2 separate regions of the Homo sapiens genome follow, and region 1 is linked to region 2. Evidence: fine-mapped expression QTL. A gene starts in region 2. The other region holds a variant in brackets. All regions are shown on one strand. Distances are between the middles of the regions.

Evidence for each region. PIP is the estimated chance that this variant, and not a neighbour inherited with it, causes the effect.
Region 1: its variant is fine-mapped to the expression of WDFY4 in whole blood (TOPMed, PIP 0.93).

The regions. Positions count from the first base shown.
Region 1 is chr10:48,771,312-48,781,606 of GRCh38, reverse strand. It overlaps WDFY4 (WDFY family member 4), which reads right to left. Exons shown (of 62, transcript NM_001394531.1): 14 at 6,935-7,149; 15 at 5,801-5,895; 16 at 4,623-4,857; 17 at 4,112-4,188; 18 at 2,775-2,996; 19 at 1,488-1,666. Among named protein-coding and RNA genes, the nearest start is that of WDFY4, 92 kb to the right of the region's middle. The variant G/A (reference allele first, on the strand shown) is at 5,833.
Region 2 is chr10:48,679,142-48,689,436 of GRCh38, reverse strand. WDFY4 (WDFY family member 4) reads right to left here and starts at 4,564. Exons shown (of 62, transcript NM_001394531.1): 1 at 4,436-4,564. RefSeq lists enhancers at 3,774-4,314, 4,333-4,632, 5,563-5,642 and silencers at 5,293-5,342, 9,493-9,757.

The DNA.
Region 1 (10,295 bases), 92 kb before region 2:
TCTTTCTGGTCAGCCAGGCGCAGTGGCTCACACCTGTTATCCCAGCACTTTGGGAGGGCAAGGCAGGTGGATCGCCTGAGGTCAGGAGTTTCAGACCAGCCTGGCCAGCCTGGTGAAACCCCGTCTCTACTAAAAATACAAAAATTAGTGGGCATGGTGGTGGGCGCTTGTAATCCCACCTAGTCAGGAGGTTGAGAAAGGAGAATCGCTTGAATCCTGGAGGCAGTGGTTGCGGAGAGCTGAGATCGCACCATTGCACTCCAGCCTGGGCGACAAGAGCGAAATCCTATCTCAAAAAAACATATATATATATACACACACACACACATATATATATATACACACACACACATATATATATACACACACACACACACATATATATATATTTGGTCATCACTGCCTTTTTTTGATAACAGAACTTTACCAGCAGATGGTATCAAATTCACCTATATGTGTCCCACAGAATTTGGGACTAAGAATTTGTTCTCATCTGATGACTCTTAACCTGGAACAACTTTGACCCCCAGGGTATATTTGGAAATGTCTGGAGATGTTACTGGTGGTCACAACTGGGCAAGGTCAGGGGAGGAACACTATGGCATTTAGGGGGAATCCAGAAACCCTGTGTATGTAAGGTTCTCCATTCTGGCTGCATATTAGAATCACCTAGAAAATTTTACAAACATTAGTAAGTTGTCAAATTACCTGACCCAGAGAGATTCTGATGTAATTATTCTGGGTGCAGCCTGTGCAAGAGAACTTTAAAAAGCCTTTGCAGGTGATTTTAAAATGCAGCCAGCTTGGGATGCTCTCCCTGGAACTTGTGTGAAAATCCAGCCCTACCTGCCTTCTATGGTCCTCCGGGCCCTCTCTTCTCTGACAATGGCTGCTGGCGCCTGCCAGCTCCACCTTTTCCCAGCTTTCTCTTATACCTGGGGTGTCTCTAAATGACAGCCATGAGATGCTTCCTCCAGCTATACATTTGCATTCTATTACCTTCCTCATGGTTCTTGCTCTAAATCTGACGACACGTGTTGGTGTCTGCCCACTCTAGTGTCCTGCTCCTCCGTGTGGTGCAAAGATGAGCTGCGTTGGCCTCACCTGGGAGCTTCTTGGAAAAGTCATACCTTAGGCCCTGCCCAGACCTCCCTGAGGAGTTTGCCCCTCAAAATGAGAAGCTTTGCTTTGTTCATTCTGGAGTTTTCTATTTTCATGAACATGACTATTCTTAGAGACCTGGATGCATGTCTTGCCTTCTGCCCTGGTAGCGTGACCTTCAATGCATTTTCTAAAGATGTCCTTTTCATGTCTGAACTCAGCCAAGTTTCCTGAACAGTAAGGCAGATTTCATTAGATGCCAACCCTACCAGTAATAAACAAACAAACAAACAACAACAAAAACATAGAATGAAACCGAGGCCACTTCAGGGTAGTAGCAGGAGGTATGGTTGTGGGGCAAGTGCAGCTTGGAGGAGCCATCTCACCTTGGCAGAGCCAATGACCTGTCCATCCAGACAGGTGGAAACTGTACAATGCCTTTTCATTTCCTTAGTGACAACCACAGCCAAGTGATGCCACTGACCACAAGCCAGGAGCTGGCCACACCTGACCTGAAGCTGGCATCCTGCAGAAGGCTCGGAGTCATCCTCAGGTTCCATGACATCTGGAAGACAGCATGAACACTGAGTCTCACGTGTGGTGCTACACTGCAGGAACCCAGGAGAATGGGGAGGGCATAGGCGGACGTCAACCACTGGGCCTTGTACCATGGAGCCCTAGATCCTCCTCTCATGAAAAATGACAACAGCAGCAGCAATAGCAGCAGTCATTCTTTGAGCTCTTCCTTTGTGCCAGTTTTAAGCATGTTACAAATATCAACTCATGTCATGTTCACAGCCCTGTGAGGTAGGCGCTCATACATGCCCAATTTACCATCCTGAGGCACAGAGAGGTTGGGTGACTTGCCCAAGGTCATACAGCCAGGATTCAAACCCAGAAGCCAGGCTTCAGGTCTATCCCAAGGTAGACTACCTCCACAGAGACTCCATTGTAGGCCGAGTCCCAGAGAGTTGGATAGGCAGTTGTGCTGTGTACAAGGGTGTCAGCCGCTTCCACTGTTTCATAGGGCCTCCCAATGTTTTTCCCTATGAAACAGTGACACTCTCAGGACACAGGAGAAGAACAAGTGGACAGAATCCACTGGACTTGACCATCTCAGGCAAATGAGCCTGGAGAACAACGCTGGGCTCCAAAGGGCAGAGCCAGGGCTGGCCTCTAGCACTGCCAAAGGAGGGGTGGCCCTGGGCGCCATGCCAAGCATGGGCCAGCCTTCTGGGTTTGGGGTTGAGCATATGTGGGAGCGCCTATATGTCTGTAGCTGCTTCGGCTCCAGCTAAATTGTGTGTGTTCTTCACAAACCTCACTCAGGAGAGGATGCAGCCTGTGTCCCAGCAAGGCAAAGCCCTGGGTCCCATTGTGACTGTTCTGCCAGGGCGAAGTTTCTGAAAAGCCACTGAGCATCATCTCTGAAGCTGTGCCAAGGGCTGGGGCCTCATCTGCCTGACACTTACAAGCCTAGAGCCCAGGCCACAGTGAACCACAACAAATATTGTAGACCTTTCACCAGGTATGGAACCCAAGGGAGCAATTTCAAAGGATGAGGAGAAACAGAAGGTCACCAGGTTTCTAACCACACCTGTGTTGAGAGCTTCTGACTTAGCCCCATTTCCCCCACATGTGGATGAAACTGGCTTTGGATCCCAGCACCTTACCCAGAGGCTGAAACTCCTTCTCTTCTGTAGAAACAACCAAGGAGAGGTCGTCTGGGCAGAGGCTGACGGAGAAGCAAACAAAGGGTTGCTCAGTCCTGGCCAGGTGGCGCACCAACGTCAGGAAGCGCAGCGGGTGGCCCTCAGTGGCAGCTCCATGCCGGCTGATCAGGAACCAGCAGGAGAAGGTCAGACCTCCAGGAGGAGGGAACGGTCTGGTGGCACCTGGGTGGGAACACAGGCATGCCCTCAGGCTTTGTTCTGCCCTGCTGAGCATGCATGTTCAGATTCACTATGGTGCTGATTTAGCCCAGGTGCAGCACCTACTGGGTGTCTTGCCTAATCACCAGTTGTCTCCTCCCCATTATGGCATGCTGCCTTGCCAAGGGAGCAGAGAAGATCTCGATCTCCCTGAGGTCCGTCACACGTGGGCTCCTGGTCAGCTGATCTATAGCCAGGCAGTGTGCTCTGTGGGGCAGAGGACCTTGGCCTAGCTCAGCTGAACCTTGGATAGGAAAGGGCACCAATCTAGGAATGCCATGTGCCCTCCCATCACATAACAGGGTTGGCGATATAGACAGGTCCATTGTCCTCACAGAACAGGCAGGATCAGCTGCTGTGTCCTCAGACTTGGTGCCAACTCACATGGAAAAACGTCATGAAGGCAATGGCTCCCCAGCACCCATGATCCCATAGAAACCCCAAACCCAATTCTCCTAACAGAGCGTGTGGCTCAGGCAGCATCAGGCACTTGCACTGTCCCACCCAGCGTGTTTTCAGCTAAGTGCAGTGCTGTGCATAGAAGCCACTTGCCAAAGATTGGTCTATTCTCAACGGCCATCAGCCCAACTCATATTTCTCTCTAGAGAGAGATCTAAGGCAGGTAATGTGTCCATCTCAGCCTACATCAGTCACCAGCGAAATGAGCCAATTTTTCAATGTCAATTGAGTCCCTAGCTATAGGCTGGACCCTTGGGATGCACAATGAACAGAACATCTTGCTCTAAAAGAGGAGCAAAGTTGAAGAACAACTCATCTGCAGATACTCAGGACCAAGGCAAGACTCATGTTTGCTTTTCTTTTTTTGAAACTGGGTCTTACACTGTAGCCCAGGTTGGAGTGCAGTGGTTCAATCATAGTTCACTGCAGCCTGGAACTCCTGGCCTCAAACAATCCTCCTGTCTTGGCCTCCCAAATTGCAGTATTACAGGTGTGAGCCACCATGCCCAGCACAGCTCACACTTTATTGAAACACCAAGTAAAAATCTGCAATCAAGGCTATCTGAAGACTCATACTTTGGAAGGGATGGAGAGCTAAACCATCTGGGAAAAACACCTACCTGTCCCAATTCCTCCAGAGACAGAGTACTCAGTGCTGGTTCCCATAACTGTGGACAGGGTTGGAATAAACAAACAGCTGGAAATAGAAAATTGTCTCAGATCATTGGACTGCAAGCCAATCTCTTGCACTGACACAGCTAGTCTGGGCCATGACATCTTCCCACTCTACCCTCCTGCCGGCACTGTAACCCTCCTTAGACCATAAGGTCCCAAGGATGGACTGCAGCTGGTGCTGGTAGGATGCCTAAGGGAAGGAATTGCACTGCAGGCAGGATGGGAGGGTGTTCCAGAATGCAGCCACACCAGGGAAAAGAGGGTCTTGGCCCTCCATAGCTGGGGACACAGCCCCTGGGAGGCCGCTGAGTAGGCGGGTGTCCATGACCCAGACATTTTCCTCTGCTGAGTGGTGAGATTCAATGGGAACTACAAGTTTGCAATCAATATTATAATTCATCAGAGGCACTGCAAAATTAATAAAGTGCATTTTAAATATGTGAAAGCCTGTCATACCCATAACCTTCCACGGACATGTCAAATTCCACAAACGATGGGGCCAGGGCTGCCCTCTGAGGCTGCAGGTTGCGTGGGGAGGTCATGGAGATGAGGCTCAGCGCCGTCTGAAGAGCAGTAGTTGAATCCTGGGATTCCCCCAAGGGCTGCGGGGCCTGTGTGACTCCAGGGTGCAGCCCAGCATCTGGGGCAGCTGGCCAGGGCCCCTCAGCCAAGCCCTGTGCAGTCTGTGACCCTAGGGCAGCAAGCAAGAGAAGAGATGTGTCTCTGCTCAAAGCATTTCTGTCTCGCTTCTGACAATAACCCCAAAGTATCTGCCGCAGCCCAGAAAGAGAGTTTCGCACAGTCACCAGGTACTTCCTAAGCACCAGCGAGGGTGGCTCCCTGGCCCCCAGCCCGGGCCCCCTGCTGAGTCTGATAACAAGGAATGGTGTTGCTAACCTGCTCCTTCTAGAAACTTTTCTTTCATTCCAGCACAGATCCCTTTTCCAGCATAGCACATTCTACTGCTGCCACCTCTGTCTCTGGCTTGCCCCATTGGAGTTACTCACTGGAGCTTTGTGTCTGCTCACAAAGCCCACACTTTCCTTCACAGCAGCCTCTCCTTGTAAGCTCTGGGCTCCCACCGCAGCTGTCAGCCCCAAGCCTGATCCCGCACCCTTGCTTCTCCACTGGGCCTGCCTGTTTCCTTGAGGTCTTATGTGATCTTACATTCAAGATGTCCACGAGTTTCTTTTCTCTAAGCTGGTTCCCTGGCCAACATTCCCCAGGTACTAGGCCTGACACAGGGGTACCACCTGCATCTTGGGCCTCCAAGGCTCTGACATGCCCTTGAGCTGTGAGCTGTACAGAAGCCTTCCCTGCACACCTCTGTCTAGTGCAGCGCCACGTACTGCTGTGTCATGAAGGAAACTCTGTCTCTGCTTCCATGATCTGGAACCCAAAGGGATCATCTGTCTTATATGTCTGGGTGGGGGTTCATCTTTCTCCATCTGGATATGGTCTTTCTCCAGAGACCAGGAATTTCTTTGCTTTTTCCTCAGTTGCTGCATTGAGCAGCAGACAAAACCATGTTTAAACCTGTTTGCTTTCCCACCTGTTGTAAAGGATCCCTCAGCAGGAATGCCTATCATCTTTTACTTCCCATTAACCTGCCCCGTTCTTGCCACTGTCCTCACCTGAGCACCCAGGGTTGCCTCTGTGTGTGTGA[G/A]ATGAATCAAGGATTTTTGTTGTGGCCGACAGAGATGAGGGAATTCCAAGACCTAGAAACTGTCTGAACATAACATACAAGAGGAAAAAATGAAGACATTTTACTAGCAACAGTGTTCTCCAACTTTATCCTGACAACTGTCCTAGATGCCTGGAGCTCCCTGACCTCCCAGCCCCACTGGAACACCCTTTCTGAAAGCAATGTGGAGACAGGGTGTCTCTGCCCTGCCAGCCAGACCAGACCAGAGAGCTGGTAAGTTTAGGAGCCTCAAGATGGATGTCATAACAAAAAATAATGTCACAAAGTAAATTTGTAGTAATTGTTTATAAGTTTCTAATGGAATTTCCCATGCAGCACTATAACCAGCAGCCTCCTCTGGCAGCTGTCGTGCCCGCCCCTGGGTCCCATGTCTGCTGGCTGGAAAGGCTGTCTGTGCGCCCTCTACACTTGCTCCTGTGTATAAGCAGCAGGGCCCCCCGCTCTGTGCATGGCCCTCAGCACTCCAGGTGGCATAGGAGACTCCTGCCCTCCCCAGTAGCTTCCCTTCCCTCTGCTCTCTTGTCTTCCACGTCTGCTCCCTGCTTCCCACCCTGTGCACCTTTGCACTTTCTCTCCCTGCCATGGCTCTCCAGGAATGTGGCTTCATGTAGAGGCTGACAGCAGGAAAGCCCCCTGGAGGATCCAGGTGGGTTCTGCCCCATCCTCCTCCATGTCTGCAGTCCCTACATGCTTACTGCCCAACTCCCTACAGGACACAGTCAGCCCCTCCCAGCCCCACCCCTCCCGGCAGAGCCTTCCAGGCCCAGTTCCCTCCTCTCTTTGTCTAGTGAACTCTACAGGCCTCGGAATGCAGCTCCACTTCCTTGGAGCCCCCTCCAGCCCCCACGTGATCCATTAGAGGGGGCTATGTCTGCTTTGTGGGCACCTGCACACTGCCTGGCACAGACCCAAGGCTCAGCCATGGACTCCAGCCTTGAATGCCAGGACAGAGCCGTGCCCTCCATCTGTCCCTGCAGTCTCTCCACTGCCCATTGTGCAACCCCTGCCCTGCAAAGGACATGGCTGCCCAGCTTGGCGGCACTGAATATGCAGCATGTGGTACCTTAGCACATCCGGTTCAATGGCCTGGGAAGCGAGCTTCTCAAAGATCCTGATGAGGCGTGAGTGGAGGGGGCTGCCACTGGTGACCAGGGCCCTGTGGCAGGAGGCCATGAGGGTCCCAAGCAAGCCTGCTTCGCACATGACCTGGCGGTTCTTCTCCGACTTCACCAGGGACTGGATATGACTGGCCAGGGAGCACTGGATCTCCTCGGAAAGCTAAGAGTGACCAAAGCAAGCTGTGAGCCCTCCAGGGCAGAACACCTTGTGGACAGCTTTTATAGGCTCCAACTTGGCCTGGGGTGAGTTGTGGAACAAGGAGACTGCGCCCACCATACCCCATCCCCACTACACCCACGCCTGTCTCAGGGTTCTTCCAGTGCCCTCCTCACCTGGCGGGGGGCAAGTCTGTGGGAGGCAGCCTCTGGCAGGACACAAGCTGCCCAGGTCAGTGTGGGGAGAGGTCAATGGCTAAAGATGGAGGCCACATGCCAGCAGGCAGGAGGCTGCGTCTGCCTCTTAGACGTGCTGTGTTTGACCCACACAATATTTCAGCAGTTTCTGAATTAACTGCTAGCATTGAAAAGTCTGAAGATGTCACATAAAAATCCAGACTTGTGGCCTCTCTCAAAAGATGGGACGATCTGGCCATGCTGGCTTGCACCTCTGTGGGGGGAAGGTGGCTGGTGCTGGGTGGGAGCTGTGCCCTCCAGGGGTCCAACATCCCCCCCAGCTTGGCTTTACTCCCCTAACAGTTCCTGTGTTGGAGTTCGCACCCCCGGAGTAAAAGGTGGAATCTGCCTGGGAGTACAAGACTAAAAGAAGTACCACTTACCAAACATACACACTCTGCCTTGACAGATACAGGCCCCACCACAGACATCTCAAACCACACTCAAAGTCTGCAGGCCAACTAAAGTCTCTGGGGAGAAGCGTTTGCTGAAGCCACTCTCATCCCCTGGGTGCCATCTCCCTCCGCCCACCCTCCCATCATCCTGTGCCTGTCCCTCAGTCCTAAGCACATGCTGCCACATGAATAGCTGTGCTCTTATCTTAACCCTGAACTAGGTTTCCAGCTACTTCCCTCTGCTTATGTCCTTTGAAGCACATAGAAAAGAGTGCATAGACTGGGCTCAGTAAATATTTGAGCCTAATACCACACATTGCTTTTACAATCATTCTTTCATTGTAAAAGATAAATCTTTGGAATTATCCTTCCCAGGCTGGATAAAGGGTTTGGATTGGGTGGGATGTTCCTTTACAAAAACTCTTAGGACTGTCCACATTCTCTTTTGTTGCTGGATAAGATGTCGTATCAAGTGAGAGGGATACAGGTTAGATCTTAATGGAATTTTCCTTGTCCCAGTGGATGCTACTGTGCTCCATGCAGATCTCCTTCTCCAGATGAGAGGTATACCTGCCACGGCTTCCCCTTCTCTGCAGAACTGCCCTCCACAATGGTTGAACTAGTTTACAGTCCCACCAACAGTGTAAAAGTGTTCCTATTTCTCCACATCCTCTCCAGCACCTGTTGTTTCCTGACTTTTTAATGATTGCCATTCTAACTGGTGTGAGATGGTATCTCATTGTGGTTTTGATTTGCATTTCTCTGATGGCCAGTGATGATGAGCATTTTTTTCTCATGCTGCTATAAAGACACATGCACACGTATGTTTATTGCGGCATTATTCACAATAGCAAAGACTTGGAACCAACCCAAAAGTCCAACAATGATAGACTGGATTAAGAAAATGTGGCACATATACACCATGGAATACTATGCAGCCATAAAAAATGATGAGTTCATGTCCTTTGTAGGGACATGGATGAAATTGGAAATCACCATTCTCAGTAAACTATCGCAAGAACAAAAAACCAAACACCGCATATTCTCACTCATAGGTGGGAATTGAACAATGAGATCACATGGACACAGGAAGGGGAATAGCACACTCTGGGGACTGTGGTGGGGTGGGGGTAAGGGGGAGGGATAGCATTGGGAGATATACCTAATGCTAGATGACGAGTTAGTGGGTGCAGCGCACCAGCATGGCACATGTATACATATGTAACTAACCTGCACAATGTGCACATGTACCCTAAAACTTAAAGTATAATAAAAAAAAAAAAAAAGAAAATGCAAAAAAAAAAAAAAAAAAGAACTGCCCTCCACTAGGTAAGAGCTGCCCTGCCCAGGGGCCATGGAGCCCTACCCACCCAAATACACATACACACACACTTACATGCCCCCTACTTACATACACACGCACACGCGTCCATACACACAGGTACACGCACATGTGTCCACACACACATCCACACACACCATACATGCCTGTGTGCACACACACACATACTCCAGGCTGGAGCCAATGAGGCCAGTGCCCTCGGGACTGTGTTGTGCAATTCATGCCTCAGAATCCCAGGGGCTCCGGCTGAGACAAGACTTTGCTGTGAGCGCATCCTCCTTCAGCTCTTTCCCTGCCCGGCTTCCCTCACTCTCCTTCCCTCCCGAGTCCTTCCCTCAACAAATCCCACATACCTGGACCCCTGTCTCAGGCTCCACTCCCAGGGAACCCGACCTGAGGCACCAGCATTCTTTCCATGTTTTATACCTTTGCCGCAGTTTGTAGTTTCAAGAAAGGAGATCAATGGCCATGTAAATGAGTTCTAGACCACCAAAGTGAAGCCAGGAGAAGCTGTGAATGCACTACCTGAATAATCTCTTTCTAAGGAGGACTAGGGTCTGGTCTCTTCACATCACAGACCACCTGTTACACCACCCAGTAAGAGCTTTCTTGGAGTCCTCCCTGCTTCCTCTCTTCCTATTCTTTCTCAAACAAGAATGAAGTGGCTCTCAACATCAACTTCTGGGTAAAGCTCTAGGCGTTTAAAGATGAATAAGACACTGTCCCTGCTTTCAAGGGATTCACAGATTAAAGGTGATACACGTGGGCAGACACATTGTCCCAGCACAGTTTGAAACGTGCTCCAGCAGAGAATTTACAACATCGAGCACAGCAGATGGGGTGGTCCCTGCAGCCTCTCACACATTTCACAAGGCTCTTGAAGTTAGAAGGGACTCAAGGCCTGGCATCTACTGTGAGGGCCAAATTTTATCCTGGGATGAGAATATTTCCTGGGTATTTAGGCTGCAGCAGGCCCTTTTCTAAGCATTTTGACATGTATGGATTATGCAATCACTGTGAGAAGCCTGTGAGGGAGGCACAATTATCATACCCGTTTTACAGATGGGGAAGCTAAGCCCAGAGATGGAAATTGCCAAGAGCACATGACTCTTGCTCAGAGTCACCTCATTCCACCATCTCCTCTCCACGCGGGCAGTCATTTGAGGGGTTCCCTCC
Region 2 (10,295 bases):
TTGTAACATCTTTAAAATCTGGTGTGTATTTCACACTTACAGTGCATCTCAATTCACATCGGCTACATTTCAAGTATGGCTAGTGGCTTCTGTATTGGATAACAAAGGTCTAGACTTTGATATTTAAGTTTTTAAGGAGTGCAGATACCTCAAAGGGGACTGGCAGCCAAGGGTTTAGGAGATATCATCTATCTGCATTTTGATGGTTTATAGCACTTGGAGGGAGATTACAAATGCAAGCCCCTAATTGTAAATAAAACGGGTAGCAGCTCTAAGGTGTGGCTTTAGGAACTCTGAGAAGTTCATTTTCCTTACCCTCCTACACAAGATATATTCCTTCTTTCTGCCAGTTGGCCAAGCTGCCTTGCTTGTCTACCATGAAGTTCACTGGGGTGGGGGTGGAGGGGGCCAAGCCTTCATTTCTTCACATATTGTCTAACAAGCATCTCCATCTTTGTATGACCAAACTCATATTTCTGCTTCTACTTCCACCTTCCAAATCTGCTTCTACTGCCCTCAAGCCAGCTCAGTAGGTGATAATCTCATTCTTCCTGTTACTCTGGAGTCATCTTTAGCTTCTCTCTTTCTCCCATGCTCTATACCTAAAATGTCATCAAATCCTACCCTCAAAAAAGTATCTAGAATCTGACCACTCTGACCACCTGTCATTATCTCAACTATTATCACTTTGGGGCAAGCCACCACCACCTCTAGCCTGGGTTATTGCAAAAGCCTCTGAACTGATAGTCTTGCTTCTTCCTTTGGTCTCCTACAATCTTCACATGACACCTAAAATGATTCTTGTTTAAAATGCTTGCATTTTGAACAAGAATCAGTCCAAATAGCAACAGTCCAAAAATGTATTTTAATGACAATTGACACAATATAAAAATATAAACCACTTAGGGATATGTCTAGTCAAAATATGCACTACTGCTATAAAGAAAATAGTAACATTGTATTTAAATACTTTAGAGAAGACCTAAATAAGTGGAGAGACAGACCACGTTTATGAATTGGAAAAGTCATTTTCATAAAGATATCACTTCTTTCCAAATTATATTTCCAGTCAAATCTGAACATAGTTTTTTTTTCTGTTGAAAGCCAATTCTGAAATTTATATGAATGAGTAAAATACCAAGAATTCTCAAGACAGGATGGAAGAAGAAAAGAATGGGGAGGCTCTTTCCAGATACCGAAATTTATTATAAACCTGTGGTTAACAATGTTGTCTAGCATTGTCAAAGGGTTAGACAAATTGACAGAATAGAGAACCAGGAAAGACCCCCATGCACATGACAACTCAACTCACAACAGAGCTATCATGGATCAGTGACTAAAGAATGGCCTATTAGGCCGGGTGTGGTGGCTCATGCCTGTAATCCCAGCACTTTGGGAGGCCGAGGTGGGTGGATCACCTGAGGTCAGGAGTTCAAGACCAGCCTGACCAACACAGTGAAACCCCATCCCTACTAAAAAACCCAAAAATTAGACAGATGTGGTGGCGCACGCCAGTAGTCCCAGCTACTGGAGAGGCTGAGGCAGAGGAATCGCTTGAACCTGGGAGGTGGAGGTTGCAGTGAGCTGAGATCGCACCACCGCACTCCAGCCTGGGTGACAGAACAAGAATCTGTCTCAAAAAAAAAAAAAAAAAATTAGCCAGGTGTGGTGGCATGTACCTGTAATCTCAGCTACTAGGGAGGCTGAGGCAGGATAATTGCTTGAACCTGGGAGGTGGAGGTTGCAGTGAGCCAAGATCATGCCATTGCACTCCAGCCTGGGTGACAGAGCAAGACTCCATCTCAAAAAAAAAAAAAAAAAAAAAGAATGGCCTATTAAATAAATGGTGCCAAGACTCTTGGTTATCCATATGGGAAAAGCAGAATAAAATAAAGTTTCTTCCCACCTCACGCCATACACAAAAGCCATTTCCAGGCAGACTAGAGACTTCAGTGTAAAAAGTAATATTATAACATTTTTTGAAAATAATATGAGAATAATTTTACAACCTTATAGTGGAGAATTTCTTAGATAACACATAACAAGTATAAATCATAAAGCGACAGGTGGATAAACTTATTTGAAACTAAGAAATTCAGTCATTAATAAAAACCACAGGAATATAAGGAGACAAGGCACCAACAAATGAAAAATATTTGTTATATATATAAATGACAAAAAGTAGTACCCAGAATATGTATTGAATTATGGCAAATCAATAGGATAAAAGACAGGTAACCCGATGAGAAATGGCCAAAAAATGTGAACAGGAAAAGGGACCCCAAATGGCCAATAAACATATGAAAAAGATGTCCAACCTTAGTAATTTGGTCAATGCAAATTAAAAACATGCTAAGATAGCTTTTCATTTCTACCAGATTGGCAGAAATACAGTACCAGACAATATCAAATGCTGATGAAGAAGTGGAGCAACAGAAACTTTGGTGCATTGCTGAGGGGTGGGTAAAATGAGGCAAAAACTTTGGAAAACAACGTGGTGACATCCAGTAAGGCTGACGATATGTACAACCTATGACCCACCAATTCTATTTCTAGAGTATATACCCAAGATAAATTCTTGCACACATGCCCCAAGATGCATGTACAAAAATAGTTCTAGCGGCACTGCTTATAATAGAAAAAAAAATAAACTCTTGAAATACCTAAAATGCCATCAACAGCATCTCAGATAAATATATTGAGGTACACTCATCTAATAGAATACTGTACTGCAGAAAACTTTAATTATCTACAGGTACATGCAACAATATGAAGAAATTTCAGAAACAAACTTTTGAACCAATTAGGCAAATTTTAAAAGAATATTTAATTCCATGTTTACAGAGTTCAACAACTTGCAATCATACATATATAGCGATTTAAATATGGGATGTAAAATTAGAAAAAGAAGCAAGGGAACAATAAACCCAAAATTCTGGACTGTTGCTGCTTCTGAAGAGGGAAGGTGAAAGATGGGCATGAAGAGGACCTCAGAGATGATGCTGATCTTTAAAAAAATCTAAGGTGTCAGCACACAGGGTTTATGCTGTTTTTATTACTTCTATCTTATTATGGTCTTTCTAAATTTTCTTTTCTTTCCTTCTTTTTTTTTTTTTTTTTTGGAGATGGAGTTTCATCGTGTTGTCCAGACTGGTCTTGAACTCCTGACCTCAGGTGATCTGCCCCTCTCAGCCTCCCAAAGTGCTGAGATTACAGGCGTGAACCACTGCGCCTGGCCGAAATTTTCTTTTCTTTCAACACAGAAAATCTTTCCAAGTTCATGAAAGAATAGCCCATGTGCTCAGGATGGACAGACAGGAAGGGCCTCCCTGACCTGACCCTGTTCCCTACCTCTCTGGCCAGAACCCCAGGCATGCCCCTTACCCGGCTCTGCCACACCAACCTCCACGAGGTCTCCTCCTCCAGACCCTTATCAAGAACACTTCTCAGAAACCCACAGGACTCGGCCTCCCTCACAGGTCCCCTCTCAGAAGACTAGAGCCATCCCCACCCTCCCAAGACCCCCACCCTACCTGCTATTCTCCCACCTGCTGAGCACCGTAGACCCCTGTCCGCTTTGACCAGAGCCTGGCAGGGCGTGGTTTCTCAATACCTATTTGTTAAATAACTAAATGAATGACTATACATAAACTCATATTAAAATTAGTGTGCTCCATGGAAAGGGTAATGCATAGAGCCCTTAGTTATCAAACCAGCCCCCCCACACTTTAGATGAGTTGGGACAAAGGATCGGTTTAGTGTTCTAGAAGTTTCATTTCAGGGGAAAAGAAGAATCAGTCCTTACTGAGCAGGTGGCCCTGCTTAGGCAGAAAATGCAGGCGTTTCAATGGTTTGCTGTAATAATTCAGATGAGGGAAGTGAGCCCAGGGAGGCACCTACTTACCAGAACCCAGTGGAGTAATGACAGGGCCGGGATAGACCAGCTCCCTCTGAGGCCCGTTGGAAATGGCCCTCCAACTCTGCACTCCTCAGAGGCCTATGAGGGAGCTTGGAGGGCGAGCCTCACTGTCCTGTCGGCCTGCTCTCTCCGCCCCCTCGACAACCAGGAAAGCCCGTGTCAGCCCTTCCCAGGGTTCCCTTCATAGCAGGACCCCGAGAAAGGACTTGACCTACCGTCAGAGGTCGAGGAGTGCTGCTGGAGCCCAGCCTGACTCCCAAACTTCAGCAGTGACACACACTCAGGCAGACCCAGGCCCTGGAGTGGCCCTGACCACATGGGCCCCCCACGCCACACACACTTCCTGCTCCCCAGCTCACCTCCTCTCCCACATTCACAAACCCAAACCAGGCACTGGGTCACATGTGCCCCATAGTCAGCCTCCCAGGAGGCAGCCAGTAGGCCCCACGCTGACAGGCGGCGCCCATATGCCCACCTCTAGGCTGGCCTGGCTGGGCCAAGAGCAAGGTGGCCTACCTGGAGGGGTGGCCGTCAGCGCCTGTAGACATCAGAAGGCATGGGCCCCCTATCCCCAGCTGCAGCCCCTCAGGCTCGGGGGAAGAGGACCCGGCCCCACATCGTCAGTCCTCAGCGCCGTTTCACTCTGAATCACTGGAGCTGGGTCTCTGCTCATTTCCTGGAGAAAGCAGAAGTGGAGAGCCGGCAGATGCCTGACTCTGCCCACTCTCCAGCCGACCACGGAGCTGCTGGAGTTCTGGCGGGTGACTTGGGTTCTGCAGCAAGGCCCCTTGGGGCTGGCTGTGCAGCCTCCGTGGTCAAGCGGTGCTGGTTGGGGCCAAGGACAAAATGGAAAGTACAGCCCAGCCCTAGAAGAGTAGGTCTGGATTCTGTGTCCCCTCTTCACTAGCCGTGTGACCACTGGTGCACACCTCTCCTCTCTGGGCCTCTGGCAAAATGAGAACAATGATGGTGTTAGGTGAATCTAATCAGAGGTGTGTTTAAGTGCACCCCTGGACATGGCATGGGTTGGGCAGCCCTCACCCCACCAAGCTCAGAGTTGCCCACTTGGATTTCTTCCTCCCCCATCCTCAGATAGAACTTGAACCACCAATGAGGGGAGTCCTCCTGCGGCCAACACTGAGGCAAGGATGAGAGGACATCTAAAACCATAGAATGGAAGTCTCTGAAACTCAGACTCCAAATTCTCATTCCTCTGAGTATATAAACTAGGCTGAATTATCCATGTCACCTATCCATAACGTCATCTCCACAGTACAAACAAGCATGTCCATTCACACACAATCCTGCTTGTGCTCTGTAAAAGGAGAATTTTGCCAAAGAGCAAGGGCACTTGTTAGCGCTAATGCCTGATCCTTGATCCTCAGTGCAGCTCATCGCTTGTCTCTAGCTCACAAAACCAGTGGACCATGCATGACTGACTGAGAGGCAGCAACAACATCACTTGTTATGACATGGAGTAAAGCTCCAAGATTGGTTTAAAGAGGAAAATAACATTTGTCACAAAACCTCAACCTCCACCAGTGCAAACTTGTCAGTAGACAGCAGCCAAAATAGGAGATCTATCCAGCTGCACTCCAGTCTGGACAGCAAGAGCGAAGCTCCGTCTCAAAAAAAAAAAAAAGAAAAAAAAGAAAAGAAAAGAGAAATTGAAAGGATACATGCAGTGCCAGCCAAGGGAAAGAGAAAACCTTAGAGAATTTGCAGTGAAGTGTTTGTTGTATATGATGAAAACCCCTCGTCATTGTCACCAATGAAATCATAAATAAAATCTACAAGAAGATATTGCCTGAAATCAGAGGCCTATGGTAAGAGCGGATTAGACAGAGGAACTTCCACAGAGGCAGGAAGGGTGGCCAGCATGGGACAGGCCAGGACCCCATGCCTGTGAATGCCCAGAGGAAGCGCGGAGAGTCTGTCATAGTGGGATCTCGCAAAGTCTGCTGGAGGGCCCACCTGCACCCAGGTCTCCTACCTTCTACCCACCCCAGCACCTTGCCGGGTAGCCAGCAGCAGGCAGGTAAAGAGCACTAAATTCAGAGCTAGAAACTCAAGGTTGAAATTCTCACTATCTTAACTGAGATAATTGACATCTTATTTGCAGAATGAATGAATGCCTTGTTAGAAGGAACAAATCAAATAATATTTGCAAGAGAGGTTTTTTTTTTTTGAGACGGAGTCTCGCTGTCGCCCAGGCTGGAGTGCAGTGACGCGATCTCGGCTCACTGCAGGCTCCGCCCCCCGGGGTTCACGCCATTCTCCTGCCTCAGCCTCCTGAGTAGCTGGGACTACAGGCGCCCACCACCTCGCCTGGCTAATTTTTTGTATTTTTAGTAGAGACGGGGTTTCACCGTGTTAGACAGGATGGTCTCGATCTCCCGACCTCGTGATCCGCCCATCTCGGCCTCCCAGAGTGCTGGGATTACAGGCGTAAGCCAGCGCACCCGGCCAAGAGAGTTTTTAAATACTGAAAAGGGCTGTGCAAATGCAAGCTATTATTAGTGAGAGAGTTGCCAAAGCTAAGACACTGAAGCAGCCAGGGCAACTATGAACTGCTAATGTAAATGTGTATTTTTGTTAAAGGGCAATGTAAGATTCTCTGATTTTTAAACAATTGCCCCAAAATGGCAGTTTTACTTCTGCACCCAGTTATGGTGGTGTAACTGGTATAGGACATACCCTCCCATTGAAAGCAACTATAGAATAGTTCAAATACACAAGATAATTGTTTTCAGGCATTGAATAGCAAGACTGTGATCCTTGAGATAAGGAAAACACACAAGGTGAGCCCCACAATTGCCCTGGAGTTTTTTCTAGTGATGCTTTTTCTGCTATGATGCAGGCAGGTGGGGCCCCAGAGACAGTAGTCTCCCTGAACTGAAAAGGTTTAAGTCAGAGTTCAAAGCTGCTGAAGGCTCTGGTATGTTCAGGGCAGGTTCCTGAGGAGAGTGTGCCTTGTGGGAACTCATTGTGTGTGCCCTTGGCCAAGGATTCCTATGTGTGCACAGGGTGAGACTCCAAGAGACCCAGCAGAGGTCAACTGACCCAAGGCCGAGCACTGAAGGAGGTAACAGAGAATGTGCAGTGCTTGGAATGTTGCAGTCGCATCCCATGGAGTGTGGAGAGACCTTGCTGAGCATTGTGGGACTTCACTTTACACCTCAGAGCCCTCACCCCACCAAGCTCAGAGCTGCCCTCTTGTATTCCTTCCTCCCCAATCCGCAGACCAAACTTGAAACACCAATCAGAGGAGTCCTCCTGCAGGCTAAACATGAAGGTAATGATGAGAGGAAATTTAAAACCATAAAACTCTGAAGCTCAGACTCCACACTGAAGAAGTAAGAACCACAGCCTAGAATAAAAGCCATAAAGTTGGAACAAGTTCAAAATTGAAATAAAATAGCTCCATGTGATAAGTTACTTTTATGAGTTAACTTGACTGGGCCATGAGGTGCCCAAACATTTGGCGAGACATTATTCTGGGCATGTCTGTGAGGGTATTTTTGGATGAGATGAACATTCGAATCAGTAGGCTGAGTCAAGCAGACTGTTCTCCCTAATATGCATGGGTGGTTTCCAATCGGTTGAAGACCTGAATAGAACAGAAGGCTGAGTAAGAGGACACTTTGGCTGCTTGACTCCTTGAGATGGAACATCAGTCATCTCCTGCCCTTGGACTGGAACACTTACAACACTGGCTCTTCTGATTCTCAGGCCTTTGAACTCAGACTGGACCTTACACCATTGGCTCTTCTGGGTCTCCAGTTTGTTGACTGAAGATCTTAAGACTTCTCATCCTCTATAATCATATGAGCCAATTCCTTGTAATACATAAAGAAATAAACAAACAAGAGCAGGCATGTATATATATAGATATATACACACATATACATATATATATATATATATATATATGTATATCCAATTGGTTCTGTCTCTCTGGAGGACCCTAATACAACCAAACAAAGAATAAAAGAAGCAAGACTGACAGAATTAAAAGGATATTCCAGTAATTTTTTTTGAGACGGTCTGGCTCTGTCCTCCAGGCTGGAGGGCAGTGGGGTGATCTCGGCTCACTGCAACCTCCACCTCCTGGCTTCAAGCAATTCTCATGCCTCAGCCTCCCAAGTAGCTGGGATTATAAACACGTGCCACCATGCCCAGCTGATTTTTTGTGCTTTTAATAGAGACACTGTTTCACCGTGTTGGCCAGGCTGGTCTCAAACTAATGAGCTCAAGCGATCCCATCACCTCAGCCTCCCAAAGTGCTGAGATTACAGGTGTGAGCCACTGCAGCCAAGGAATTTAACTGCCAACCAGAACAAAACTCAAGATGCTTTAAAGGAAGAAAACTTAATGCAGCCTCCTTTCAATTTAACATCCATGCTATCTAGCATAGAGTTAAAATTAGTAGAAATCTGAAAAAGCAAAAGAATGTAACCCATAACAAGAAATAAAAAACTGTCAATAGAAATAGACCCCAAGATGAACCAGATGTTGGAATTATTTCACAGGAACTTTAAAGCAGCTATCAGAAATATATTCAGGAACTTAAAAAAAAAGCAGGCAAATTTCAGCAAAAAAAAAAAAAATCGAAAATACAAGAAGATTCAAATGTAAATTCTAGAACTGAAAAGTATATCTGAAGTAAAAATTTTACTGATAGACCAACAGCAAATTGGTGGCCACAGGAAAAAAAGGGTTAATGAACTTAAAGACTTATTAATAAAAATTATACAATTTGAAGGACAGAGGGGGAAAATATTGATGAAAAAAAACAAACTCAGCTGCTCTTGGGACAATATGAAATGGTATAATATATGTGTAAATGGGGTCTCAGAGAGAGAGGAGGGCAGAAAAGCACATTTGCAGAAATGATGTTTGAAATTTCCCAGGTTTATTGAAAAACGGCAAATTGCAGACATGATAAATTTAGTAAAACTCAAGCATCACCAAGTGCAAAGAAAAAACACACTTAGCACATCATAGTCAAACATCAGAAACAAATGTATTATCTTAAAACAGTCAGAGAGCAAGAAAGCAGTCAGAAAGAAAAAAATATTACCCAAAGAGAAACAAAAATACTATTTAAGGCTGATGTTTTATCAGAAGCAGTGAATGCCATAAGAGAATAGAAAGACATCTTTAATATGCTAAAGGAAAACAACAAAAATTGTTAACCAATAATTCAATAGCCAATGAATGTCTCTGTAAAAATGAGAATAAAATACATTCATTTCAGGTGAATAAAAGCTGAGATCATTCATCTCCAGCATCCTTGCAATATAAGAAATTCTAAAGGCAGTTTTTGAAGCTGAAGGGAAAAGATGCCAGATGGAAACTTGGATCTATAGGAAAAAAAGAAAAGCACTATTAATAGCAAATGTGTGAGTAAATAAAAACAAACCATGTACTTTTCATTATTTTAACTTCTTTAAAAGACTATGACTGCTTAAAGTGAAAATTGCAGTGCTGTACTTTGGAGTTGATAGCATACGTGGATAGAATGTATTTCACAACTACAGCACCAAAGACTGAGAAATCAATGGAAGCATATTGTTGCAATCTCACATTTTACACAAAAATAGTATTTTATTTACTCTAAGTAAATTGTCATAAGGATATGTAATTTCTTCATGGCTTTGTGACAAAGATGTCAGAAAAGTAAAAGTTTAGTTCCAATCAACAAACACACACAGAGCATCTCCTCTGTGCCAGGTCCCAGGTAGGCCCTGAAGAAACAATGATGAACAGAGCAGAGCTGCTATGGAGTTTACTTCCTTGCTGCAGAGCAGTCTACACCAGTTGTTCAAGTTGGCAGGTGGTTCTCCCCCATATAGCAATTTAGGAATATTGCTCCATTGTCCCATATAGCCTTGTCGTCTGCATCCAGCCTGTAAAAAAGGAAAGGGAGTGGACAAGACAAGACATACCTCTGCCCATAAAGGCCCAGCCTCTGAGTGGTCTACATCGCTTTGGCTCACATGCTATTGTAACCACATGGCCATATCGAGCTGCAAGGAAGACTGGGAAGTGTAGACCAGCCATGGGCCAGCCTCGATCCTGTTATTAGAGAGAATGCATTTTGGTAGGCTGTCGGTCTCCACTATGATCTCTTCAGAGCACTTACCATCACTTATCAGGGCCATATACTAAAAAGTTAATACTTTTAAAAATAAATATTTTTCTGACTTTTAAAATGAAGCATGTTAATTCTAAATAGTATGTAAAAATAAAAAGAAGAAGGAATAAAATAAAACTCACTAATACCCTATGCTGAGCAATAGCATTTCAGTCTTTTTTTCCATGTTTACCAAAGTATATTTCTTTGGTCTTATTTTTTGTTCTTAACAAATGG